Linked DNA regions of Homo sapiens. The protein of the gene in region 4 binds, or shares a complex with, the protein of the main gene of each other region. Each region holds a gene or a part of one and is shown on either strand. Other genes may lie near its edges.

What was found.
Region 1: INTS4 (region 4) and INTS12 share a complex: the UniProt entries of both Homo sapiens proteins name them as parts of the integrator complex.
Region 2: INTS4 (region 4) and INTS1 share a complex: the UniProt entries of both Homo sapiens proteins name them as parts of the integrator complex.
Region 3: INTS4 (region 4) and INTS6 share a complex: the UniProt entries of both Homo sapiens proteins name them as parts of the integrator complex.

The regions. Positions count from the first base shown.
Region 1 is NC_000004.12:105,691,680-105,698,706, forward strand, and holds part of INTS12 (integrator complex subunit 12), read right to left. Parts: intron 3,990-7,027; coding exon 3,837-3,989; intron 1,808-3,836; coding exon 1,620-1,807; intron 457-1,619; coding exon 297-456; intron 1-296. UniProt on the Homo sapiens protein: Component of the integrator complex, a multiprotein complex that terminates RNA polymerase II (Pol II) transcription in the promoter-proximal region of genes.
Region 2 is NC_000007.14:1,480,369-1,487,395, reverse strand, and holds part of INTS1 (integrator complex subunit 1), read left to right. Parts: coding exon 1-76; intron 77-294; coding exon 295-474; intron 475-621; coding exon 622-771; intron 772-1,926; coding exon 1,927-2,106; intron 2,107-2,193; coding exon 2,194-2,298; intron 2,299-3,225; coding exon 3,226-3,393; intron 3,394-3,542; coding exon 3,543-3,654; coding exon of another isoform or gene 3,655-3,695; intron 3,696-4,688; coding exon 4,689-4,850; intron 4,851-5,907; coding exon 5,908-6,054; intron 6,055-6,462; coding exon 6,463-6,561; intron 6,562-6,954; coding exon 6,955-7,027. UniProt on the Homo sapiens protein: Component of the integrator complex, a multiprotein complex that terminates RNA polymerase II (Pol II) transcription in the promoter-proximal region of genes.
Region 3 is NC_000013.11:51,373,030-51,380,056, forward strand, and holds part of INTS6 (integrator complex subunit 6), read right to left. Parts: intron 6,544-7,027; coding exon 6,433-6,543; intron 5,426-6,432; coding exon 5,210-5,425; intron 3,146-5,209; coding exon 3,019-3,145; intron 1,768-3,018; coding exon 1,625-1,767; intron 1,411-1,624; coding exon 1,179-1,410; intron 1-1,178. UniProt on the Homo sapiens protein: Component of the integrator complex, a multiprotein complex that terminates RNA polymerase II (Pol II) transcription in the promoter-proximal region of genes.
Region 4 is NC_000011.10:77,984,654-77,991,680, forward strand, and holds part of INTS4 (integrator complex subunit 4), read right to left. Parts: intron 6,647-7,027; coding exon 6,455-6,646; intron 1-6,454. UniProt on the Homo sapiens protein: Component of the integrator complex, a multiprotein complex that terminates RNA polymerase II (Pol II) transcription in the promoter-proximal region of genes.

The DNA.
Region 1 (7,027 bases), on a different chromosome or scaffold from region 4:
AATGTTTGTCAATACATTGACAGACTAGTAAGGAATATTCATAATTTGTGTGTCACCAATCTTGTTTTATCTATATTAGAATTAGATAAAACTAAAAAGAGAAAAATGCACATAACATGGTCTGGTCTTTAGCAATAGAAATATTAATCACATGTACATACTATACATATAAATAAATAATCAGCTTATATTATTTATTTTTTCAATATCTTAAATATTCAAATCTTTGTTTTGAAAGCACATACCAACAAAAACATTGACAGACTGTTTAAAATAAAGAAAAATATGATTCCTACCATTCTTTTCATTTGTCTGGTACATCGGGCACAATACCACACCAGGCGAGGGTCATTCGCTTCCTTGTCTGTCACCTGGGGTTTATGACAATCTCGGTGGTAGAGATTATGGCACTCCTGACATTCTACTAATTGATTGCCAGATGCCACCATCATTTGCCTAAGAAAACATACCATTAAACATTACACTACTTTTTTAAATGCCATAATTTAAAGTTATTTCAGGGGCCAGGTGTGCTGGCTCATGCCTGTAATCCCAGCACTTTGGGAGGCCAAGGCAGGCGGATCATTTGAAGTCAGGAGTTCAAGACCAGCCTGGCTGACACGGTGAAACCCTGTCTCTACTAAAAATACAAAAATCAGCTGGGCATGGTGGTACACACCTATAATCCCCACTACTCAGGAGGCTGAGGCAGGAGAATCGCTTGAACCCAGGAGATGGACGCTGCAGTGAGCCAAGATCATGCCACTGCACTCCAGCCTTGGTGACAGAGTAAGACTCTGTCTCAAAAAAAAAAAAAAAAAAAAAAAGTTATTTCCAGGTTGTTCTGGTAAAGTTTGGTATATTAAAAAGAAAAAAAATCCCAGAAACCCAAAGAGCAAATAACAAACCCCAACACTTGGCATGCACAAAAGCATAAGCTTTTAAAGCTTATGGTCAACCATTAATAAATATATAGAATGCCTTAATTAAATTTGGCTATTTTCTCGTCATTTCTCGTCATAATTTTTGCCTTTCTCTCAGAAGGTAGTAGACTCTGATTAGTCTTCCAACAGCCTCATAACATTTTGTATCTCCATTAAATTCCCTTATATTAGTTAGCTGTATGTTGTTGTTGTTCTTCATTAATATGAGTCACCTAAAGGTGAGTACTGGACCTAATTATCCACAGTCCTTAGCACATTACTGTGCACACATAGGGTGCTCAATAAATGTCTGATCAGATTAATAGAATGAAGCCATGTGTGTATAAAAAAGTATAAATTTCAACAGCACAAAAAGCAATCACCATAGCCTTAGATTATCAAAGGCATATATATCATAATATAATAATCACTTTCCCTCTGGAACCCAAAAATGCAGAAAATGTTACAACATAACAGATTTAAAAGCCATAGTTGGGAAAGACAAAATAGTTGACAATTTTCAATATGCTAAATTGTTATATGGGCAGTTACCTACTTATCTCCACCCCAGTTCCAAATAGTAAAAACAAAATAGAAAATGCACAACAATTTTTCTGATTTTGGGGGTTGAGGAGTGGAAAGGGTCATGTGTTCTTTATAAAGTAACAAAAGAATCTGTGGCAAGGTACAACTTACCTACAAACAACGCAGGCCAATCCCATCTCCATGGCAAAATCATCAGCACTGGTCTCCTCAAAACTGGAAAGGTCAGCCATAGGTAAATCCTTGCTACTTTGGACAGTAATGGGAGATGACTGTGTTTCTGGTTTCTCCAATCTAGGTTTCTTTGGAATATCAACTCCTTCAGTGATGTCTGATTTCATCTATAAAAAGCAGGCATCAGAAAATGATAAAGTAATGTGGTAGAATAAACTTTAAGTCACTGAAAGACGAGTGAGAAGGACAATTGGCAATGAACAAGTCCATTTTACAGATATATTCACATAGTTAGGGACAGATGTGCACATTAAAGATCTGTAGAAGAATTGCAATGAATTTATTAGTATATTAAATGAAACCAGCAAGATAGAAATAAATAAATCAGAACAGTTTAACAAATATTTGTATTTCTCTTTGTACTCTTCTATCTACTAAAGAATTATGGAAGATCGATGGATTTACTTAGACTAGTATCTACCATACAGACTTAACACATATTTGCTTCAAAGCAAATTCGGATTCCCTTCTTTAAGATATAAATATTATCAATATACCCATTAGATTTGGCAAAAATCAAAAAGTCTGATAAGACATGGAATTTGGAATTCTTATACTTTGTTGATGACAGTGTAAATTTAGTACATCTACTTTTGATAGAAATTTGGCAATGCCTAGTAATGTTGAAGATGTCATATCCTATTATATTCACTTATAGGTATACATCCTATAGAAACTATTAACATGACATATGTATAAAGTAGCTCACTCAAACTCCATTGTAATAGAAACAAAGGAGAAATATCTAATTGTGCATCAGTAGGGGAATGATAAACTGGTTAATCATTCCCCTATGATAAATCAGTAGGGGAATGATAAACTGGTATTATGTAGTAGCTAAAAGAAATCTAGATCTACATGCATTAACAAAGATACATTTCAAAAGCACATAGTTGAGTGGAGAAAAAGTTACCAAAGGATATACACACACACAGTATGATAACATTTACATAATTTTTTTTTTAAGACAGAGTCTTGCAGTGTTGCCCAGGCTGGAGTGCAGTGGCACAATCTCTGCTCACTGTAACCTCCGCCTGCTGGGTTAGAGTGATTCTCACGTCTCAGCCTCCTGAGGTGCTGGAACTACAGGTGTGCGCCACCACACCTGGCTAATTTTTGTATTTTTAGTAGAGAGGGGGTTTTGCCATGTTGGCCAGGGTGGCCAACTCCCGACCTGCTGACCTCAAGTGATCCTCCTGCCTTGACCTCCCAAAGTGCTGGGATTACAGGCATGAGCCACCACACCCAGCTTCACTTATGTAGATCTAAAAACAGAGAAATAATCTAATGTAGTTTATGAATAGCCACTATTTAGCAAAAGTATGAAAACATACGGGATAATATACTCCATCTTGAGGGCAAGGGTTACTGAAGATATCTTTCAAATGTATTTTTTTCTAACTACTAAAATCTTAATTACTATATGTAGAAATCATCTAAAAATAGACAATCCAAGAATCATCTTTGGCACTGTTCAGGTGCATACCACTCTATAAAGTTTATGTTTAGTCATTTACATCTATACTCTTTCCCATCTTTTCTTTCTTGCTTTCCTTTTTTTTTGAGACAGCGCCTCACTCTGTCACCCAGGCTGGAGTGCAGTGGCACGATCACCGCTCACTGCAATCTCTGCCTCCTGGGCTCAAGCAATCCTCCCACCCCCCACCCGCCCACAAACAGCTGGGACTACAGGTGCATGCCACCACACCCAGATGATTTTTGTATTTTTTGTAGAGATGGGGTTTCATCATGTTGCCCAGGCTGATCTTGAACTCCTGAGCTCAAGCAGTCTACCTGCCTCGGCCTCCCAAAGTGTATCTATCTTTTCTTCTTAACAACTGTTCCATCTAGGATCTCTGAGGCATAGATTAAAGTTTACACTCAAAGTTACTATACTCCCTAGGACTCAAATATTTATTGACAATAACTTTTAACCACTTAACTTTAAAATTTGTAAATTTTACTCATTTTTTGAAAAGTCAAAATCTATAGCTATCAATATATATTCACTGAGTGTTGATTATTATATACCTATACCCATTATTATATAAAAGAAATAGGCATAAAACATTGTTTCTTTCTGCTTATGGAACAACTAATTTACTTTCTTTTAACAAGATTAAAATAAAATCTTACTTTATCAGCAGGTCTCTTTTCAGCTTCCTTCTTTACCTTTTCAGTTGTGAGGACCTTGCCATTATTATTACCAGAAGGAAGACTGGATGATATTTTGGGCTCTTGCTTAATGGAAATGTTTTTTGTGCTTGAAATTTTGGGTGGCTCCACATCCTAAAAGATGAAAAAAGGTACCAGTAATTAAATATTTAGACTGATCATCATAAAAAAAGATCATTAATATAAACAATTTTCAGTTAAAAATTAAGACATTTCATTATAACCAATGTAATATTCCTTTCTTAAATAGTTAAATAGCTTTATTGAGAAATAATTGATATACAAACTGTACCTTTTTTATTTTTATTTTTTGGGACAGAGTCTCACTCTGTTGCCCAGGCTGGAGTGGAGTGCTGTGGCACAGTCTTGGCTCACTGCAACCTCTGCCTCCTGGGTTCAAGTGATTCTCCTGCCTCAGCCTCCCGTGTATCTGGGACTACAGGTGCACCACCACACCCGGCTGATTTTTGTAGTTTCAGTACAGATGGCGTTTCACCATGTTGGCCACACTGGTCTCAAACTCCGGCCTCAAATGATCCGCCCACCTCGGCCTCCCAAAGTGCTGGGATTAAAGACGTGTACCACCACACCTGGCCCAAACTACACCTACTTAAAGTGTAACATTTGATAAGTTTTGACATATGTATACGTCTGTGACACCATCACTACAATCAACATAATGAACATATCCATCATCTCTCCAAATTTCCTTGTGGCCCTTTGTAATTACTCTCTTACAGGTATACACCCTATAGAAAAATATGTCTCCCATCATCAAGCAAGAAAAATATGTCTCCCATCATCAGGCATATAGAAAAATATGTCTCCCATCATCATCATCACTTATCTGTTTTCTGTAACAATACATTAGTTTGCATTTCCTAGAAATTTATATAAATGGAATCATATTCTTTTTTGGTCTGGCTTCTTCTACTCAGCATATTTATTTTGAGATTCATCCATGTTGTTTAGTGTATCAATAGTTAATTCCTTTTTATTGCTGAATAATATTCCATTGAATGAATAGACTACAATTTATTTATCAATTTACCTATTGATGGATATTTGGGTTGTCTGCAGTTTGGGACTATTACAAATAAAGCTGTTATGAATATTCATGTACAAGTATTTATATATATATCTATGTTTTTATTTCTCTAGAAAAAATAGGAGTGGGTTATATGGTAAGTATTAATATATGCTTAATTACTTGAGAAACTGCCAAACTGTGGCAGTACCATTTTATATTTCCACCAAGCATATATGAGAGAGTTCCAGTTCCTTCCCATCCTCACCAATGCTTTGTATGGCTACTCTTTTTAAATTGTAGATGTTCTAATAGGTATGTAGTGATATCTCATTTAGATTTAATTTAAATTTCCCCAGTAACTAATGATGTTGAGCAGCTTTTCAAGTGTTCATATGGCATACATATATCTTCTTTGGTAAACTATTTGATAAAATATTTTGCCCATTTAAAAGAAATGAATCTGTTTGTTTTATTACTAAGTTAAAAGAGTTCTTCATAGATTTTGGGCACAAGGCCTTTATCAGATATATGATTTGCAAATATTTTCTCTCAGTCTGTGGCTTGTCTTTTCATTCTGTTTAAATTCAATTCCTTATTCATGTATTATAGCTTTGCTGATATAGATAACTTGTTATTTGTTGTCATTAATAGTATGCATAAACTTTGGCAGCTCTTGGAATTCCCCCTCCCCCAAAAGGAGGGCACTTTCCCATCATTCTAAACAAAACTAAGGCAGCTGAGTGCAGTCTATTTTACTGTGATAATATGTAAAAGTACAAAAGTATAAATGGGAATAATACACAACAATTTCAGAATAGTGGTTACCTCTGAGGGGGGAAGAGAAGAAAAAGGAAGGAGGAATGGGTCCTCAGATCTAGTGGTGGCAGGGCTTGATATATTATTATGCTGATTGTTTAGACAACGGGTTAGCAAACTGAGGCCTATAAATAGTTTTTTATAAACAGTTATATTAGAACACAGCCACACCCATTCATTTTATAATGTATGGCTGCGTTCACATTACCATGGCAGAATTAAATAGTTGCAATGGAGACCATCTGGCACACAAAATCTAGAATTCTTACTATTTGGCTCTTTATAAAGTCTGTTGATCACTGGTGTAGACTTAGTAAAGTGTTGAAGAAAATGTTAATAATGCAGATTAAACTTAAAAATGTGTGGTGGGCAGGTGTGGTGACACATGCCTGTAATCCCAGCACTTTGGGAAGCCAAGGTGGGCAGATCACTTGAGTCCAGGAGTTTGAGACCAACCTGGGCAACATGGCAAAATGCTGTCTCCACAAAATATAAAAAAATTAGCCAAGCATGGTGGCATGCACCTGTAGTCTTAGCTACTCAAGAGGCTGAAGTGGGAGGATTGCTTGAACCTGGGAGGGAGAGAGCGCAGTGAGCCAAGATTGTGCCACTGCACTCCAGCCTGGGTAACACAGTGAGACCCTGTCTCAACAAAAAACAACAGAAAAACAAAAACGTGTATTGTGTGTAACTAAAAAATTGAAGACAAAGTCATGCAGTATTAAACTATTACCTAATTCAGCAAAAAAGTTGTTCTAGTTGTTGACGGATGAGTTAAGTTTTAACTCCATTATTTCACATTTGCCTTCCTCATTAATGTAAATGAATATCAACCAATATTCATGTTAGAATACACTTGGAGACCTGGTAATGTTAGTAAGCATTACCTCCAGGTGATTCTTATCCATGCTAAAGTTTGAGAAACACTGGCATAAATCACTCTTCTTACACAAATCTAGTGATGAAAATATTCAGCTGAAGGCTAAAATTAAATGGACCTGGGCTTTAAAAACCTATAACAAAGTAGTTTCTGAAAACTGATCAAGAGAAATGAACTCTAGCTAGAAACCTAAGGGCAGCGTGCTTTTTAATCACAACAAATTTTTCATGTTCTTTAAGAGATAAACTTCCATTTTAGAACCCCATTAAAACAATTTTTTTTCTTTAGTAATAATAGGTTTCCCTATCTGGACAATACCAACACCCACAGTGGAATGAATTTGGTAGTATGTTTTGTAGAGCCATATTGATTTGGTCGATCTGAACTCACTGAACCTACTGCAATGAGAATGGATAGAAGAAATGA
Region 2 (7,027 bases), on a different chromosome or scaffold from region 4:
CCAGTCCCTCCGCCTCGGGCACCTCTTGTGCCGCAGCCGAAACCCTGACTTTCTCCTCCACATCATCCAGCGGCAGGTGAGTGCCGAGGCTCCAGGAGGTAGAGATGGTGGTCTTGGGAGGCCCGGAACCTTCCGGAGGCCTTGGTGGCCAGAAGAGGGCAGGACACACCTGGATGCGGGGCCCATGAGCTGGCTGCTGCGTGTCGCCCTTTCCGGCTCCGCGGTCACCCGGGGGGCTGGCGGCAGGTGTTGGGCCTGGAAGGTGCTGAGCGGGCGCCACTGTCGCCTGCCCAGGCCTCCTCGCAGTCCATGCCCTGGCTGGCGGACCTGGTACAGTCCAGCGAGGGCTCCCTGGACGTGCTGCCCGTGCAGTGTCTGTGCGAGTTCCTGCTGCACGATGCTGTGGACGATGCTGCTTCCGGGGAGGAGGACGACGAGGGCGAGAGCAAGGAGCAGAAGGCCAAGAAGCGGCAGGTCAGGGCCGCCCACCCCTCAGCCCCCCCGCCTCTCACCCCGCACCCCTGTCAGGGCAACCCATGCCTGAGCCCACCAGCCGCGCACCCCACGTCCTACCCGCCTGGCCTGTCACCTGCACCCCTGAGAGCCCCTTCCTCCCTGCAGAGGCAACAGAAGCAGCGGCAGCTGCTGGGCCGCCTGCAGGACCTGCTACTGGGCCCGAAGGCTGATGAGCAGACCACGTGTGAGGTGCTGGACTACTTCTTGCGGCGCCTCGGCTCCTCCCAGGTGGCCTCCCGCGTGCTGGCCATGAAGGTGAGGTGGTGGGCGGGTCTTTCTGCGCACGCTCTTCATGTTTAAAATGAGTAGGCTGGGGACCGGGCACGGTGGCTCACGCCTGTCATCCCAGCACTTTGGGAGGCCAAGGCAGGCAGATTACCTGAGGTCAGGAGTTGGAGACCAGCCTGGCCAACATGGTGAAATCCCGTCTCTATTAAAAATAGAAAAAATTAGCTGGGCGTGGTGGAGGGGGCCTGTAATCCCAGGTACTCTGGAGGCTGAGGCAGGAGACTCGCTTGTACCTAGGAGGCGGAGGTTGAGGTGAGCCAAGATTGTGCCACTGTACTCCAGCCTGGGCAACAAGTGAAACTCCATCTCAAAAAAAAAAAAATAAATAAATGAAAAATAAAGAAGTAAAATGAGTAGGCCTGGGGCAGTGGCTTGCTCTTGTCATCCCAGCACTTTGGGAGGCCGAGGTGGGAGCATCACTTGAGTCCAGGAGTTTGAGACCAGCCTGGGCAACACAGGAAGATCCTCTCTCTACAAAAACTGAAAAAATTAGCCAGGTGTGGTAGTGTGTGCCTGTGTTCCCAGCTACTTGGGAAGCTGAGGCAGGAGGATCACTTGAGCCCAGGAGTTTGAGACCAGCCTGGGCAACATAATGATACCCATCTCTACAAAAAATAAAAGATGAGAAAAATGAGCTGGGTGTGGCAGCATGCACCTGTGGTCCAAGCCACTTGGGAGGCTGAGATGGGAGAATCACTTGAGGCTGTAGTGAGCTGTGATCACACCACTGCACTCCAGCCTAGGCAACAGAATGAGACCCTGTCTTAAAAAGGAAAAGTAAAAATCAAATGAGTGTTCAGTGCACTCTGACTGTATTTTAAGTTCCTTCCCTGCGTAGGAAGGATGCGCTAGTGAAACGTGAAGGTGGACCCTGCCGCCTGCCTGGTGTTCCTTTCTTGCTGGTGACGGGAGGGTCCAGAGTGGCTTCAGGAACTTGAACAGAAGCATTTAACAGAAAGAGCTCAGTCTCGTTTTTCCCTTTTACCTGCGGCCTCTCCCGTGGGAAGCAAGCGCCACATTCTCCTCGGGGCTCTGAGGGCACCATGCGTGTGCTCCCGGGGCCAGGGTGAGACCCTGCCTGCACTGCCGAAAGCCGGCCCAGCTCATGAGTGTCTGCCACAGGGTTTGTCGCTGGTGCTTTCGGAGGGCAGCCTGCGGGACGGGGAGGAGAAGGAGCCCCCCATGGAGGAGGATGTGGGGGACACAGATGTGCTGCAGGGCTATCAGTGGCTGCTGCGGGACCTGCCTCGCCTGCCTCTGTTCGACAGCGTCAGGAGCACCACAGCCCTGGCCCTGCAGCAGGTGAGGGCGCTGACCGGGGCCGCGGCAGGGAAAGATGAGAGGGCCGCAGCCCTGCCCTGTTGCCGCTCAGACCACCCTCCCCTCCAGGCAATCCACATGGAGACTGATCCCCAGACCATCAGCGCCTACCTGATCTACTTGTCCCAGCACACGCCTGTGGAGGAGCAGGCCCAGCACAGCGACCTGGCCCTGGTGAGGCAGCAGGGTCAGCCAGCAGTGTGGCCCTGGGGAGGGGACGGGGCCAGCCGGCAGTGTGGCCCTGGGGAGGGGACGGGGCCAGCCGGCAGTGTGGCCCTGGGGAGGGGACGGGGCCAGCCGGCAGTGTGGCCCTGGGGAGGGGACGGGGTCAGCACAGAGACCCTGCCCTGGGGAGGGTAAGGGGCCAGTGGTGCAGTGCCCTGGGCTGGCGGCTTCTTGGGCCACAGGGAGGCATTGAGGGTGGGAGGGCCGTCACGGCTGCTGTGCTGGGGCTTCTATGACCCCGTGGCCACCTGTGTCCCTTCCTTAGTCACCACTCACTCCCTGGAGCCTTTCTCCCCAGACCCTGAGGATGCGAAGCCACGGGGGTGAGGGTGCCTTGTTCACAGCAGGGTGGAATCTGAGCCATCAGCCTTCTCCCCGACGCCAGGAGGGTTTGGGCTGTGGGCCCAGGTCGCTGGGCACCTGCCCGCTGTCCTCAGCATCTCTAGCTCACATGTGTGGCGCTGACTCCCATCTTCTCTCCTGGGTGCTGTCCTTCTCTGCTGGGCTGCTTCTCACTTTGCATCACGGTTCTCTTGTCCACAACCTGCGCTGTGACCTAGTGAAAGTTGGTGGCCCGAGTCCTCAGGGAATGAGCGATAGGTGAACAGATGGTGGCTGCCGGGCAGAGGGCAGCAGCGTCCGCTTTCAGGGCCTGGTCATTGTCCCTGGCTGTGAGAGTCGTGTCCTCCCTCCCCCCTGGAGAGTCCGACCCAGCTCTGGTCGTCTTCCCTGGCGGCCTGCGGCTGAGTGAGGGTCTGCGGTGCCGCGGGCCCTGCTTAAGATCCCAGTGAGAGCGTGCCTGCGACGAGGTCACCCCAGCTGGCCGGAGAGCAGAGCTGTCTCGGAGCCTCTGACGCCCCCCTGTCCACACACCAGGACGTGGCCCGGCTGGTCGTGGAGCGCTCCACCATCATGTCCCACCTCTTCTCGAAGCTCTCCCCGAGTGCCGCGTCGGACGCCGTGCTGAGCGCTCTGTTGTCCATCTTCTCACGCTACGTGAGGCGCATGCGGCAGAGCAAGGAGGGCGAGGAGGTCTACAGCTGGGTGAGGGCGAGGAGGTCTACGGCCGGGTGAGGGCGAGGAGGTCTACGGCTGGGTGAGGCTGCACGGCACGCTCGGTGCCAGCTGGGTACCCTCGGCGCTGGCTCAGGGTCCCTGAACCTTACGGCCTGACTCCACCTCTTTTCCCACAGTCGGAGTCTCAGGACCAGGTCTTCCTACGCTGGAGCAGCGGGGAGACAGCCACCATGCACATCCTCGTGGTCCATGCCATGGTGATCCTGCTGACGCTGGGCCCGCCTCGAGGTGAGCCGCCACAGGCCCCGGGAGGGGCAGCTTCGTGCCAGGTGGGCCACAGCCCTGACCACACCCAGCGGCTTCCGCATCCTTGCCTTGCTTCTGGGCGGGAAGCCCCCCAGCCCTTCAACCCTGTGTCCTGGCTTCTCTCCTAAAGAGGAGGCTGCAGTCCGTCCCGCGTGTCTCTGAGCACTTGGTGGACGTGTGGGAGATCCCCACGTGGTGGGACCTCCCAGCCTGTAGAGCCCTGAGCTGGAGGGCCTGGTACAGCCTGGGGTCAGAGTCCTCACTGCCCCAGCCTAACCGTGTAGGCCTGCGGTGCCTGGGAGGCGGCAAACTCGGGATTTCACCGTGTGGAGGTGCGACATGAGGCTGCCAGGCAAGTGGGTCCTCTCCCCGGGGCCCAGGCGAGTGACCCTGAGGACGCTCTGGCCAGCGCAGTGTCTGGAACCCAGCGCCTACCCAGCCGTGCCCTCTGCGGCCGCAGCCTTCCCCTTTACTCCTGGCTGACACCATGAACTGCTCCCACGTTCACCCCGTTGTGTCTGTCAGTGGGGGAAGGGGGCGGAACCCTCATGCTGGGGTTCGGGTGGACGTGGGTGGGTGGTGACCCCTGTTGGGAGGCAGACACAGTCACAGGCGTCGCCCTTGGGAAGGGCAGCCGGAGAAGCTGGCCCTGTGTGGGCCTGGGCCTGTGGGGTTTCCCAGTGGCTTTGCGGAGCCAGAGAGCTGGATGGGACCTGGTCCAGCCAAGCAAAGCCCCGAGGGCAGGGGCTGGATGGGGACACGCACATGTCCCCTTGGCCACGACAAAATGGCAGTGATGCTGCTTGCCTTCCTGCAGCATCTGTGAGGATCAAATGCGTGCACCTACGCAAAGCATCCGCACATAGCAAGTGCTCACCTAGCACAGGAGCCCCGTGCTCCTCCCAAGTCTCAGTTTCCTTCTCGGGAGAGGAGGTGCCTCTAGCCTTGGCACCAGCGGTGCTTGGGGCTGGGCCCCGGTGGGTCTGAAGGCTGCTCACCCGTTGTCCTTCCTGAAGCCGACGACAGCGAGTTCCAGGCGCTGCTGGACATCTGGTTTCCGGAGGAGAAGCCACTGCCCACCGCCTTCCTGGTGGACACATCGGAGGAGGCGCTGCTGCTTCCTGACTGGCTGAAGCTGCGCATGATCCGTTCTGAGGTGCTCCGCCTGGTGGACGCCGGTACGGTCCAGGCTGGGCTTGGGCAGGGGCTGCTGACTCAGGGGTCCCGGGCCCCTTGCCTGCTCCTTGTGGGCCTGGGCAGCCTCCGGCTGTGGCAGAGGAGAAGACTGGCCGGGTAGCCTCAGGGGATCCTGCAGACCATATGTCCTGGCCACAGCAGGCTGTGCTGGACCCTGGGAGGAGACCTAGGGCAGCCTGTGCTGGCCCCGTCCGAGAGGGTCTTACTGTCAGGCTCAGGGGTCTAGAGTGAGAAACAGGTCCTCGATGGAAAAAAGAGAAAGTGGTCTGGGGTTGGAGAGGAGGAGGAGAAGTGGTGGGGCCTCTGGGTGGGTCCCTGAAGGATTTGGGGGTTGGAGCTGCAGCCGGGGACCCCAGCAAGGACTGAGCAAGGGGCCTGGGCCCACGTAGGTCAGTAGGGCTGGTGCCTGCTCACAGTGAGGAGACACTGGGGGCAGCTTGGTGAGTGAGTGGGGCTGGCTCTGGAAACCCATGACTGCCAAGGGGTCTAGGCTGTTGTGTGCCCCCGGAAGCCACCGATGGCTTCGGGGCAAGAGCGCCCTGAGCACTGAGAGAAGATAGTCACAGCAGCCTGCGTGCAGCTTCGGAAGTGTACTGCGCCGTGCCACCATAGGCCCTCTGGAGCGCCCACCCACCCCTGGGGATGGGGCCCACACAGCTGCCATCCAGGGTGCAAGGTGGTCCCGACACGCTGCCCCCTTGTGCGGCCCCAGGTCTCGGGTGGGGTCACCGAGCCCACGTGGCCCAGGGTCTCAGGTGGGGCTGCCGAGTGTGCACTGCCCCAGGTCTCGGGTGGGGCTGCCGAGTGTGCACTGCCCCAGGTCTTGGGTGGGGTCACCGAGCCCACGTGGCCCAGGGTCTCAGGTGGGGCTGCCGAGTGTGCACTGCCCCAGGTCTTGGGTGGGGTCACCGAGCCCACGTGGCCCAGGGTCTCAGGTGGGTGGGGTCACTGCACACAGGCAGCCCCAGGTCTCGGGTGGGGTCCCGAGTGCGCATTGCCCGGGTTTTGGGTGGCGTTACGGAGCGCGTGCACCCTCAGCCCTGCAGGACCTGGAGCCGCAGCAGCTGCTGCTGTTCGTGCAGTCGTTTGGCATCCCCGTGTCCAGCATGAGCAAACTCCTCCAGTTCCTGGACCAGGCAGTGGCCCACGACCCCCAGACTCTGGAGCAGAACATCATGGACAAGAGTAAGATGCCAGGGACCTGCGGAGTGGGTTCACACACGCTGACCGAGCCCCAGCCCGGCCAGGCTTTTGGGGCCTGGGTGCGAGCGGGTGGGTGATCCGAGGTCGGGTGGGTGTGGGTGGCACTCGAGGGCAGGCTTAGACCTGTGGGTTGGTGAGGCTGGCACAGTCAGGAGGGAGCCGAGGCCTGGGCCTGCCCCAACCCTGGGGCCAGGCACCCCCTAGGGCCGTGTTTTGAGCTTGGAGGGAGCTGTTGGGGCCTCAGTGCTGACTGAGCTCACCCAGCTTCTGAAGTCCTTGGGAAGTGCTGGTGACGGTGGGGGCATCTCCAACTCTGGTTTCTGTGGAGAGGGAAGGACCTGCTCCCTGGCCCCTGGCCGCGCCCAGGTGTGACCCTGCTACGGTTTGCAGATTACATGGCCCACCTGGTGGAGGTCCAGCATGAGCGCGGCGCCTCCGGAGGCCAGACTTTCCACTCCTTGCTCACAGCCTCCCTGCCGCCCCGCCGAGGTACTGGGGAGGGGTGGGGCCAGCACAGAGACCCAGCCTGGGGAGGGGTGGGGCCAACACAGAGACCCAGCCTGGGGAGGGGGACGGGGCCTGCACAGCCACACAGGGCAGTGCACACTTGCTGATGCCACCTGAGAGGGGCCCCCACAGAAACTCTCAGCCTGTCTTTGGGCAGCATTTGCCTCTGGCCAGCATGCACGTTCCTGTTCAGAGTCTTGAGATCCCTGTGGACCTGAGCGAGACCTGGGGTCCTTGGGGAACACAGAGCCCAGGTCTGAGCTCTTCCTCCTGGGTGACAGTCCCCGGGCAGGACTCGCCATGGCTTGTACAGTTCCCACCGCTGGAAGCAGGTCAGAAAGTGTCCAGCCACTGACAGTTCTCCTGTCTCTGCAGACAGCACAGAGGCACCCAAACCAAAGAGCAGCCCAGAGCAGCCCATAGGCCAGGGCCGGATTCGGGTGGGGAC
Region 3 (7,027 bases), on a different chromosome or scaffold from region 4:
TTTTATTTTTCTGGAAAAAATATTTTTTTTCCAGGAAAAAAACCCAACAGATTCTTTGTCCTGTAGAGTTTTCTACAATCTGGATTTTACTAACGGTATCCCACATGTTTCTCTGTCCCCTGTATTTCCTATAAATTGGTTTGATTACATTGATGTTCAATTTTGGTGTTTGGTTTTTTTTTTTTTGGGTAAGACAACTTCAAAGGCAGTATTGGATACTTCCATCAGGAGTCATATAATATTTTGTTTCCCTTCAGTTAACATGCTGTAAGTATGACCACTATATATAATTGATAAGTCCATTAATTCATTAGGGTTTCCCTACATTCATTCTTGCTCCTCTCTGATAATAGTCCACACACATTACAGTCAACCTGGTCTTCATAAAATGCTAATCAGATTAGGTCACCATCATTTTAAGCCTTTCAGTGGATTCTCACTGTCCTTAGAATAAAGTTGAAAATAGCTTCCAAGACCTTCCATAATCTGGCTTCTATCTTTCAGTTCTCACCTTACCTCATTCCCAACACCCTTGCTATACTGGAATTTTTTAAATTCCCTTAATGTCTTTCTCTTTATGCCTCTGCACATACTATTGCTCCAGCATAAGCAAACGGCACAGCTTTTGGCTTAAGCATTAACTTCTTCAGTTAAGTGCCTTGACTTCATTGACTTAAATCCTCTTGCCAAATGCTTCCAGAATATACTTGACATCTTTTTCGTAACATTCAACATACTTCCAATATCTGTTCAATGACTGACCTTCCTTGCTGATTATAAATGAGGGCAGAGATCACTCCTGTCTTCAGTGGTATACCTCAAAGCACAGCATTATCCAAAATAGCATACATATTTAATAATTAGTTGACTTCAACTGAAATTGAAAACCATCTTTCTGTGGATAGTGATAATGCTCCTTTCGAAAGTATTATTTTGAAAGATTTGCAAATGTATGTTAGAACATAATAGCTAATAAAGCATCATAAATAAGAAATGTTCAAATGTTCATTAAAAAGACATACAAAAATGATTACATGCTCATTTAAACAAATTTTCTATACATTCATTCACTCATTGTACTACTAATCAATTTCCTTCTATAATCTATAACAAAAATATCTTCCTTGAAAAGGAACCAAAAGGCAGCAAATAATGTTTAAGAAAAAAACAATTCTTACTTTTATGAAGAGGAAGAGGTTTAATAAGATCTGGCTGTGCTTGAGTTGTAGGTGCAGGTGGTCCTTTTCCCCCAATATGATTGTTTACAACAGGATTCTGCTGTCTGCCTCTTAGTAGTGGAGACATACACCGACGTCTTTTAGGGATCCCTTGCATATTTGGTTCTCCGGGTCGTTTATGTTTATTTTGAGGTCCAGCCACAAATTCATCTGCTTCATCTATCATCATACCCTTTAGCAAAAAAGAATACAACTTTCTTGAATTTACAAACAATGTTTAAATGGCACAACCAGTGTCAATTCCAATGAAGGTAACTATATTCTGTTCATATTTATTAGATACTCTACCAGGAAAATAGCTTCAGCTTACTTCAGTTAAATTAAGAACTATAAAACTGACAGTGCCTACCATAAACAAATTACATAATAGAACATTTCAAAATTACCTTCTTATCCAGCTTAAAGGGGTTGCCAAATGTATGCAACCTTCGTGGCTGATCAGGATCAAGTTCTCTTAGTGGAGAAGGTACTTGCTTGAGGTATTCCTGGTAGTTCCCCATTTGTGCTATAGGAACACTGTGCACTTGATCTTTCAAAAAGAATACAACAGCAAAAAAAGTTAACCTCCAATTAGTTCTCAAATAATGTTTCCTTATATATGAATGCTACCTAGTGTTATTCTAGACAGTCTTCTTTACCAACATATTCTAAATTTGTTTGGTGCAATTATAACCACTGCGACAAAATATTTTAAAATAAAATTTAAAATACTGATCTCATCATCTAAACAAAACAAAAATTGCCATTAATTTCACACATACATACATTGCCATTAATTCCACACATACAGAAAGTATGTGTGGCCAGGCGCAGTGGCTCATGCCTGTAATCCCAGCACTTCGGGAGGCTGAGGCAGACATCCGGATCACTTGAGGTAAGGAATGAGACCAGCCTGGCCAACATGGCAAAATCCCATCTCTATTAAAAATACAAAAATTAGCAGGGCATGGTGGCACGTGCCTGTAATCCCAGCTACTAGGGAGGCTAAGGAGGAGAATCGCTTGAACCCAGGATGCGGAGGTTGCAGTGAGCCGAGATCACACCACTGCACTCCAGCCTGGGCGACAGAGCAAGGCTCTGACTCAAAAAAAAAAAAAAAAAGTATGTGTGATCTTACCGTGAAAGATGTATCTCTTCTCTTCTGCGCTATTCCAAATAAACAGAATTTAATTATAGTAGAATTTGTAGAAAATGGAAGTACAGTATGGTAAAAAAAAAAAAAAGTCGCATAGCTAACTCTTTTATATAAAATTATTGTTAGAACTCTTAAATCAGAGGTGGCAAACGTTTAAAGTCTCATCTGACTTGATTTATAGTAGGTGCCATGGATAAAGGTGAAGAAGGAATTATCAGAAAATGTCATGAAACTGGCCATCCAGAGTTAAACCATCAGATACTGGTATTATCTCAAGAAAATGATTGAGATAAGAAAAATCACTTATTTTAAGTATACAGTTTGATAAGTGGGTGTGTGTGTGTGTGTGTGTGTGTGTGTGTGTGCGCGCGCGTGCGCGCATGAATGCATGAGAAAAGCTATAAAAGGAAACTAAACTGTTAAGAAAGGTTGTTACCTCTAGGGAAGAGAATTTGGGGCAACAGTGATGGTAGGAAGAAAGGTACAGAATCAGGGATGATTCACCTTTTACTTCATTTGTTTGAACTTACAATAAGAATGTTATAGTACTGTAATAATTCTTTGAAATTTACATCACCATGCTATGCTTTTTCAGACTATAAAGAAAAAAAATTAAAAATACCAGTATTGAAACTATGTTCTAACCTTCGTCCTGTCCTTTCAGAAATCTGCGAGTGCTCTTCAAAAGATTAGATCTCATTCTTGTTAAGTGATCCAAAAGATTTCGTCTTGGTATGTCATAAGCATTTCTAAATGTCTGTGGCTTCAAATCCTATTAAACAACATTCGAGGACAAAATTTATTGTCAAACATAGAATTACAAGAGACTAAAATCTCTAGCCTGCAGCATAGGTTTGGAAATAAGATATATAAACTGGTTAGCTTAAAAAAAATAAAATAAAGACATATGATATAATCTTAATGTACCGGTTCAGGGCCAAAAGATGAAAATTTGGTAGTGAGCTCAACCAAACAATCTCAATTCACCATCTAACTCTAAAGATTTTATTATATATTCTGGATAAAAGAAGTAAACTCATTTAAGTAAAAATCAATCTCCAAATTTTAAAAACTGAAGTTTTTTAAAAAACAGCTTTGATGTGTAATTTATATACCATAAAATCACCTATTTTAAGTATATAGTTTGATGAATGTTAGTAAATTTATAGTTGTGAAACCATCATCATAATCCATTTCCACCATCCCCAAGTTTGTTGTACCCACTTGCAGTCAATCACTATTCCTATCCCCAGGCAACCACGTGACTTGCTTTCTTTCTATGCTCCATTTTATAAATGGAATTTTGCAACGTCTAATCTTTTGTACTTGGCTTCTTTCAATTAGCATGATGTTTTTGAGATTCATTGACATTATTCATGTATCAGTAGTTTGTTCCTTTTTATTCCAGAGTAGTAGTCTATTATATGGACACACCACATCTTCTTTATCTATTCACCAGCTGATGGGCACTTGGACTGTTACAAGTTTTTGGCTATTATGAAAAATGCTGCCATGTTGGCATGCTAAGCCTACAAGTAGAATGACTGATTGTACAGCAAATTTATGTTTACACTTCTTAAGAAAATATCAACTATTTTCTATCAGTAATGTTAGGAGGGTTGCTCCACATTCTCATCAATCCCTGTATTTTTTGTCTTTTAAATTTTATTCATTCTAGCAGTTATGAAGTAGTATCTCGTTATGGTTTTAATTTGCATTTCCCTAATGGCTGATAAGGCTGAGTGTTACTTCATGTTCTTATTTGTATTTGCATATTTTCTTTGGTGAAATGTCTGTTCAAATATTTTGCCCATGTTTGTCCTTTTATTATTGAGTTATATGAATTCTTTATATATTTTGATACAAGTCCTTTATTTGATATGTGCTTTTCTCCCAAGCTGTAGCTTCCCTCTTCATTTTTAATGTTTCTTTTAAAGAGCAAAGTTTATTTTTTATTTTAATGAAATTCAATTTATCAACATTTTTGCTATGTGCTTTTAGAAATCTTTGCTAACTCAACATCACAAAGATTTTTTCCTATGTTTTCTTCTAGAAGTTTATAGTTTTTGTTCTTACATTTAAGATCACGACCACTTCAAATAATATGAGGTAATGGTCAAATTCATTATTTTGCATATGGATATCCAATTGTTCCATTTGTTTAAAAGACTGTCTTCTTATCCACTACCTTATTTTAATATCTTTGTTAAGAATTGACTGTGTGTGTGAGGGCCTACATCTAGACTCAATTCTGTTCCACTAATCTCCTATGTTTATCCTTATGATGGCACCACACTGCATGGATCACTGTAGTAAGTTTTACAATAAGTTTTAAAATCAGATGATATAAGTCTTCCAACTTTATTCTTCTAAAATTGTTTTGGCTATTCCAGGACCTTTACATTTCCATATAAATTTTAGAATCAGCTTGCCTATTTCTACAAAAAGGCTGCTGGGATAAAGATATCTGTAACCATGAGTACTCACAAAGCATTTTTGGATCATGCTGTGGGTCTAATAGGGTCATCAGTTTAAGTACAAAACTATAGTGAATTCTACCATCCACTACTGCAACTTAAAGCAATTTCTAAACCTCTGTTTTCTCATCTATAAAATAAACAAGTTAGTTTACTCTTCATCAATCTATCCATTCATTCACACACCATGTACACTGTTTTAATTCTAGCAGTGACAGTATAATGATCATTAGTCTACAAGAGTACAGAAGTACTCTTTAAAGTCTGGATAAACTGAATGTCAGAGTTAACAGAAAATGTGATTTATCCAGTAACATAACAGAACATAACTAGAGTAGCACTAAATTCATGATTATTACCTTATTCAGCAAAGCAACTTGGAACCCAGTGTATTCCTTCATATTAAGGTCTAGCAGTCTGTGAGGGACATCCTCTGAAATTCCCTGGAGGAGTTGTTGAAAATCTTTCCTATATGCCATTGATAAACCATGTGATCGGCTCCGGACTTTTATTCCAGTCTCCTGTACTACTTTTTTGCCTACAGATCCAATGACTCGATCAGATTCTATTTTGGCCTAAAGTAAAAATAAGTCAGAATTATCTTGATAAAATCTAAATTAATAAATCAGATACTAATGGTTATGATCTTCTATAAATTAAATATATATTTTTTAAGTATATAAGAAGTTAAAAACTCAAGTAGCATAGTTTATGTCAAGTATTGGGTAAATTAAACATAGTTTAAACAACAATGTCTTATGATTTTAAATCATTACAACTCTAAACTTTTGGAGCAGGACAAACACAATTTCAATTTATTATTTTATTTATTAATACCCACTATACCTAAACCATGAAATATAAATGCACACTAAACAAAAATGTGTATTCCCAATTCAGGGGTGACGGTAAATTATTTTTTTAAAATCATCATTATGTAAGACATTTTTACTAGCACATCAATATGGCAAATAATTATGCAGTTCTTCCCTGGAAAGCAAGAAGCAATGTTTTGACTCCTCCCAAACTGCCTTTTGATTTGTAGTTAAGGTAGCAATGTCAGAAGTACTGGAGAAATAATGTATTTCATAGGACATTAATAATTTCACAGTCAGTTAAACTATATACTGCTTGACTACTATAGTATTTATTAATGTGACTTATGGCCAGAATGACAAAATTCAGTGTTTTCTACAAACATTTCAAAGAAACTCCCATTCTGAAAGAAAAATCTGCAGGTTTCAAAACATAAAGAGTTTTTTTTTTCTTTTTTAAGGAAAAATGACTTTCTAATCTAAATTTCTCAAAAGATAAATAATGTTCACATATAGCAAGTCTAGGACCACACTCATGAAGCCATTTTCATAAATTAGGAATTATTATATAATTTTCAAATTAATGTTTCAAAACATAGCACACCATGGATGTGAGACAGAATTATGTAATATATGGCTCTAAAATGTAATATATTAATATAATGGAATTCCATTAGAACCATCAAGAACTAGCTTTTAACCTGTTTAACCATCCTAGCCAAAACCATTCAAAATACTTAATGGCTCACTCTATTTCTTGATATTACCTGTTGACTCAGTTTTTTGAGGTATGAAATGACACTGTAACTAAGTCCATATTCCATACTGTCTGCTATTAGGTTAGGTGCTCCCATCATCCTAACAGCTTTCTTCAAGGGCTATAGGAAAAAAGAAAACATCATTCAATATTAAGCTTATTAAAAACTTATGGTTCCATGTATAGTCTGTCTTAAAATTTTCTCCAAAAAATTATTTCCCCTTCTTTTCCTCAATAAGGAAGTAACACAATCGTATTTATGTTTCAGTAAAATGTTTGTCAGTGGGATGAAAGGCCGTTTGAAGTAGTTAAAAAGGATTAGAGGCCATAATAACTCCCCAAGACAAGAAGGATAAGATACTGGTCTTCCTTGGTACCACTGGGAGAAACTAGGTTTGGAATAAATGGACAGAAGACACATTCTAGAGGTAGCTCTGATAAAACATGGGTAGTAAGTGAAAAACACTCAAGGAAAATGCAAGATTTCTACTTTTGAGTAATTAGCTGCTCAACCACTCACTAGTTATATGATTCTAGATCAGATTATAAATAAGCTCTCTGGCTCTCTGTGGCTTAGTTTCTCATTTGTAAAATGGGGATAATAA
Region 4 (7,027 bases):
TTAACACACATGAACTGCACACTTAAAATGGTTAAGATAATAAATTTTAATTGTTACCACAATTAAGAAATGATTAGCCAGGCATGGTGGCACATGCCTATAGTTCCAGCTACTTAGGAGGCTGAGGTGAGAGGATTGCATAAGCCTGGGAGGTGGAGGTTTCAGTGAACCATGATAGCACCACTGCACTCCAGCCTGGAGTGAGACCTTGTTAGGAAAAAAAAGGGAAAAAAGGGGGGGAAAAGAAAATAAATGTAAATGAAAAAAAAAAAAAAGCAGATAAGAGAGCATCTGACCTAGTGACATTCCTTATCCATTTGGATACTTTACTCAAGTTCTTTTACTTTCTGAAATAATCCCTTAGCACTCCTTCTACTATGACACATAAATGATCTCCTTCACACCTGAGCTAAAAACAGAATTACCTCCAGGGAAGCCTTCTCTAATAATTGTTTCTTCTGACCATTAAAACTGTCTTGGTTCAGGCTTTCATCACCTTTCCCCAAACTTACAGTCTTCTAATTGGTCACTCTAACTCCAGTCCATCCAATTCCTTTATCCTCCATACTTCCCCTCAGAGTGACATTTCTAAAACAAAAACTGACAAGGTAGAATACAAGGCCCTTTAGAATCAGATGCCTTCCAAATCTTCTGGTCTTATCTCTTGATGAGCTCCCAACCTAAAATCTGCACCAGCCAAACTAGCTGCATTTCTTCTAATGTGATAGCCTGTCTCACATCTCCATGCCCATGTTCACGGTTGCTCACAACTAAAATGTCTTTCCCCCTGTCTTCCAACTGGCCAAAATCTATTTCTAGGACTTTTCTCAAGCATCGCTACCACTCTATAATGCATTTCTGGATCCCTGCTTCCAATAATTAATCGCCCCCTTCTTTGAGGCCATATCATAACCTACCCCAGATTTCATAAGACCTGAAACACTGTATTGTTATTAATTCATTTCTTATTTACTCAAGACTCAGATCAGGGATTACATCATCTACATCTCTATTACCAACATGAAGCACAAAGCCTGGCACAGAGTAAGTATTCAGACATGCTGAGCAAATGAAAAAATAAGCAAATGGAAAACTTTAGCACTTACTATCTACATACTACATATATGGTCTGCCGACTACACTGCTAGCCCCTAAAGGACAAAGAACATATCTCACAGCTCTGCATCCTCCATAGCTACTAGCACAGTAGCATAAGTGAAGAATCAATCATGTGAAATAAGTTCAGATACTAATGCCTGATCACAAAAAAAAAGTAGGAAAAAGCAGAAGCCAGAGTAGTTTTATCCACTAAAATATTAACATAAAATACCACATTTCTGGATAGAACAGAAGAAAGGGTAAAAAACACTATGGTCAACAATCTAGAACTGGGTCCATCTGGCATCCCTCCTCATTTCCTTAGGAGCTAGGGTCCACTTGATTAATGCATGCAGCATGGACTGGTTAAAGTGCTTGAGATCTGACATCAGAACACCTGAGTTAAATTTTGCTTTTAGACATGACAAAAGATTATGTTTTTTAAGAGTCTTCGCCACATTTATGCAGCCAACAGACACATGAAAAAATGCTCACCATCACTGGTCATCAGAGAAATGCAAATCAAAACCACAATGAGATACCATCTCACATCAGTTAGAATGGCAATCATTAAAAAGTCAGGCAACAACAGATGCTGGAGAGGATGTGGAGAAATAGGAACACTTTTACACTGTTGGGAGTGTAAATTAGTTCAACCATTGTGGAAGAGAGTGCGGCAATTCCTCAAGGATCTAGAACTAGAAATACCATTTGACCCAGCAATCCCATTACTGGGTATATACCCAAAGGATTATAAATCATGCTACTATAAAGATACATGTGCACGTATGTTTATTGCGGCACTATTCACAAGAGCAAAGACTTGGAAGTAACCCAAATGTCCACCAACGATAGACTGGATTAAGAAAATGTGGCACATATACACCATGGAATACTATGCAGCCATAAAAAAGGATGCGTTCATGTCCTTCGCAGGGAAATGGATGAAGCTGAAAACCATCCTTCTCAGCAAACTATCACAAGGACAGAAAACCAAACACCGCATGTTCTCACTCATAGGTGGGAATTGAACAGTGAGAACACTTGGACACAGGGCGGGAAACATCACACACCGGGGCCTGTTGGGGAGTGGGGGGCTGGGGGAGGGATAGCATTAGGAGAAATACCTAAAGTAAATGATGAGTTAATGGGTGCAGCAAGCCAACATGGCACATGTATACACATGTAACAAACCTGCACGTTGTGCACATGTGCCCTAGAACCTAAAGTATAATAATAAAAAAAGAGTCTTCACCACTTAAAGATATAAATCAAAATTTATGATTAAAATAATATGATGCCAGGAATTTATTTTCATAAGAATCTGGTGGAGAAGGTGAGGGTAAAGAAGTAGAAGTGGATTGGGGAAGAGGGAAAATGAAACAAGTTTGGCCACAAAATGATAATTTTTGAAGCCAGGTAATGGGTACATGGGAATTAATTAAACTATTCTCTTTACTTACATAGTATATATCTGAAATGTTCCATAACAAAAGGTTTTTTAAAAAAAAAACCCAAGTTCAAATCCATACCTTCCATTTACTAGCTGGGTGACCTTGGATACTAAACAGCTCTAAGCTTAGTTCCATATCTGGAATTTAGAGATAACAATGGTGCTGTCACCAGGATTAAATAAAATATTACATATGGAAAGTGCTTTCAAACTCTAACAAGCAATATAATGTTAACTGCTCTAAGAAGTATTATTATAGATGATTATTGGTAACAGATCTTTAATATAATAATAATGGTAGATATTGCTAAGAAAAAGACTAACGGAAAATAGATCACTGAGAGATCGAAAACTTCTTGAGAACAGAAATCCTGATTTTGGTCAGATGTGGTAGCTCACGTCTGTAATCCCAATCCTTTGGGAGGGCCAAGCAGGAGGGTTGCTTGAGCTCAGGAATTCGCGACCAGCCTGGGCAACACAGAGAGACTCCATCTCTACAAAAAAAATTAAAAAGAAAAAATTAGCCGGGAGTGGTGGCATGTGCCTGTGGTCCCAGCTCCTCAGGAGGCTGAGGTGGGAGGATGGCTTGAGCCTGGGAGTCCAGACTTCAGTGGGCAGTGATCACGCCATTGCACTCTAGATTGGGCAACAGAGCAACACTCAAAAAGATGCCAGGCACAGTGGTTCATGCCTGTAATCCCAGCACTTTGGGAGGCTGAGGTAGGTGAATCGCTTGAGCCCAGGAGTTTGAGACCAACCTTGGTAACATGGTGAAACCTCATCTCTATCAAAAATATAAAAATTAGCCAGTCTCATAACCCAGTCTCTAGATAGATAGATACGATTTTTTAAAAAATTTTTTAAAGAAAAGAACAACAAAAAAAGAAAGCCTGATTTTATTCACGTAAAACATAAGTGAAACATTTATAATGTCCCTTCAATGTTCCTAGGAACCTGCCAGGCACTGGGATAGAGACTAATGGATCTGCAGCCTCTGAATTTACGGAGCTCAAAGTCTGAAGGAGATAGACACATATGGCAAACAATTGCAACGCATAAGACTTAACAATTGTGCTAATGGACACCGTCCAGTGCCCAGAACAAAGTCTGATATATATTTGTTGAGTAAAATGTATCACAAAAGCATCAATTAATTCATTTATTCATTCAACAAATATTTATTTTACCAGGCACTGTTCTTGATTCTGTAGAAACAACAATTAAAAAACATAAAAATCCCTGCTCAAGGGAAGCTTATGTTCCTGCATGGGGAAATGGACAAGGAACATAATTAACAAGAAATTATACAGAATATTAGAAGATGGTAATTACTATGGAGAAAACAAAATCAAGGAAGGGGACTAGGAAGTGCGGGGTGGGGATAGGCAGTTTCGATATGAAACAGAAGGGTAAAGGAAGACCTCAATGTAACGGTGACATTTGCATGCTGATAGCTGCAATATGAAGTACAAGTCACCATTTATAACATAGTCTTAAAATTGTCAAAAATATGCTTAACTTAAATCTAACAAAGCCTATAGATCTAACTTTCAGTTCATAGTAAATACAGAGAACAGAGGAACAAGTTAATCCTTAAAGAAGTAAATGAATTCAGAAAACAAGACATTTTACAAAAGAACTGTCTCAGTTTCTTCATCAAATCAATGTCACCAAAATAGTAACTGTTGTAGATTTTTGAAAAGACTGAATGCCATGTGGGGACCTGGTTTGCATTTTGATTTGAATACATCAACTATAAAAAGGTACTGGGAGAACAACTACAGAAATCTAAATATCAACTAATTCTTAGATGACATTAAAGAATTACTTAACTTTATTCATTAGGGTTAGGTGGCTATGTTAAAAAATAAAAAGTCCCTCTACTTTCTCATAGCAGTGAGAAAAAAAAAGAAAACAACAAAAAGGTATCCCTTTTTAATAGATATGTAATGAAATAATTAGAAAAAAATGACATATCTTTTTAAAAATTCAACAAAACAAGGCTGGGCGCGGTGGCTCACACCTGTAATCCCAGCACTTTGGGAGGCCGAGGCAGGTGGATCACCCGAGGTCTGGAATTCGAGACTAGCCTGGCCAACATGGTGAAACCCCATCTCTACTAAAAATACAGAATTAGCTGAGCGTGATGGCGCACTCCTGTAGTCCCAGCTACTTGGGAGGCTGAGGCAGGAGAACTGCTTGAACCCAGGAGTGCTATTACACTCCAGCCTGGGCAACAGAGTGAGACTCATCTCAAAAAAAATAATAACAAAATAAAATAAAATTCAGCGAAAAAATAGAGCAAATTTGGCAAAATACTAATAACTGTTAAATTCTAGGAATGGATATTTGGTAGGTCACTATAGTATTTTATCTACTTTTCCATAAGCTTAACAATTTGGGGGCTGAGTGTGGTGGTTCACACCTGTAATCTCAGCAATTTGGAAGCCCAAGGAGGGTGGATTGCTTGAGCCCAGGAATTCGAGATCAGCCTGTGCAACATAGCAAAGCCCTGTCTCTACAAAAAAAAAAAAAAAATACAAAAATTAGCCAGGCATGCTGCACATGCCTGTAGTCCCAGCTACTCAGAAGGCTGAGGCAGGAGGATCAATTGAGCCTCGGAGGTCGAGGGTACAGTGAGCCGTGATAGCACCACTGCACTCCCGCCTGGGCGAGAAAGCAAGACCCCATCTCAAAAATAATAATAGTAATAATAATAATGATTTTTGGGCTGGGAATGGTAGCTCACGCTTGCAATCCCAGCACTTTGGGAGGCCAGGGTGCATGGATCACTTGAGGTCAGGAGTACAAGACCAGCCTGGCCAACACAGCAAAACCCCACCTCTACTAAAAATACAAAAAAAATTAGCTGGGTGTGGTGTCACACACCTGCGGTCCTAGCCACTCTGGAGGCTGACGCAGGAGAATCACTTAAACCAAAGAGACGGAGGTTGCAGTGAGCCAAGATTGTGCCACCACTATACTCCAGGCTGAGTGACAGACCAAGTCTCAAAAAAAAAAAAAAAAAAAATGCAAAACTTAGCCTGGAGTAGTGGCACGTCTGCAGTCCCACCTACGTGGAAGGCTGAGCCAGGAGAATCACTTAAGCCCAGGAGTTCCAGGCTACAGTGACCTATGATGATGCCACTAAACTCTAGGCTGGGTGACAGTGAGCCTCTGTCTCAAAAACAGTTTTTTTGGCCAGACGCAGTGGCTCACGCCTGTAATCCTAACACTTTGGGAGGCCAAGGTGGCTGCATCACTTAAAGTCAGGAGTTCGAGACCAGCCTGGCCAACATGGCAAAACCCCGTCTCTACTAAAAATACAAAAATTAGCAGGGTGTGGTGGCACGTGCCTGTAATCCCAGCTACTAAGGAGGCTGAGGCAGGAGAATCGCTTGAACCCAGGAGGCAGAGGTTGCAGCGAGCCAAGATTGCACTACTGCACTCCAGCATGGGCAACAGAGCGAGACTCTGTCTCCAAAAAAAAAAAAAAAAAAATGTATTTTTAATTAAAAAAGAGGGCCACTGCAATTAGATATGAGGGCCATGAATTAGGAAAGGAACAGCAGGACCACATTCCAGAGATGAATGGGTCATGATTGATATTTACTCCTCTTTTGTGCTTCCACTGTACTCTGCACATACTGCACTCACAGTAACTTCAGCAGTATGATGCACCTTATCATTGACATGTCTTGTTTCCATCTACTATACACAGTATAACTTTCTGAGGTCAAGATCTGTATCTTTTTTATCTCGGTATCCATAGTACCTAGCACTTGGAAGACACTCAATAAAAGCTTCCTAATGAATACCCTATTTATTTGTAATATTAACCATTCTGCAGACATGATACAACTCCCATGATATACTCCCATCAGATCCTCAAGATTTTCTTACCTTGTAATAATGTTCCAAGAGAATCCTGACTACTCCCTCTACGCTTTCCGCCTCGACAGGCTTCCTGGCAAACTGGAGCAAGTATTGCAAAGCATCTGCTGGGGAGGTAGCTTTACACAGATCTATGTGGAGTGCTGCAGATTTACTTGGTTTTGTTAGTCGGAGTTTCTTAGTAGCAATTTCCTCCTGTGGCTGCAAGGGGTAGAGAAAATCGAAAACACAGAATCTGCAAATTTAACTTTGCCTCATTTGGTGGAAATGATTTTCCATTATACCAAATAATATATTTAGCTGATGGACTTAGGAAAATACAGTATTATAAACCAGAAAGAGTACCGGGTTGGTGACAAGGCCATGAGTCTCAATTTTGCCTTTACCAGTTCCTATGACTTTAGGCAAGTCATTTAATTTCTCCGAGTCTCAGTTTATGTCTCTGTAAAATAGGTATACTTTTTTTTTTTCTTAGAGATGGAGTCTCTCTATGTTGCCCAGGCTGGTCTTAACTCCTGGGCTCAAGCAATCCTGGCACCTCAGCCTCCCAAAGTGCTGGGATTACAAGCATGAGCCACGGTG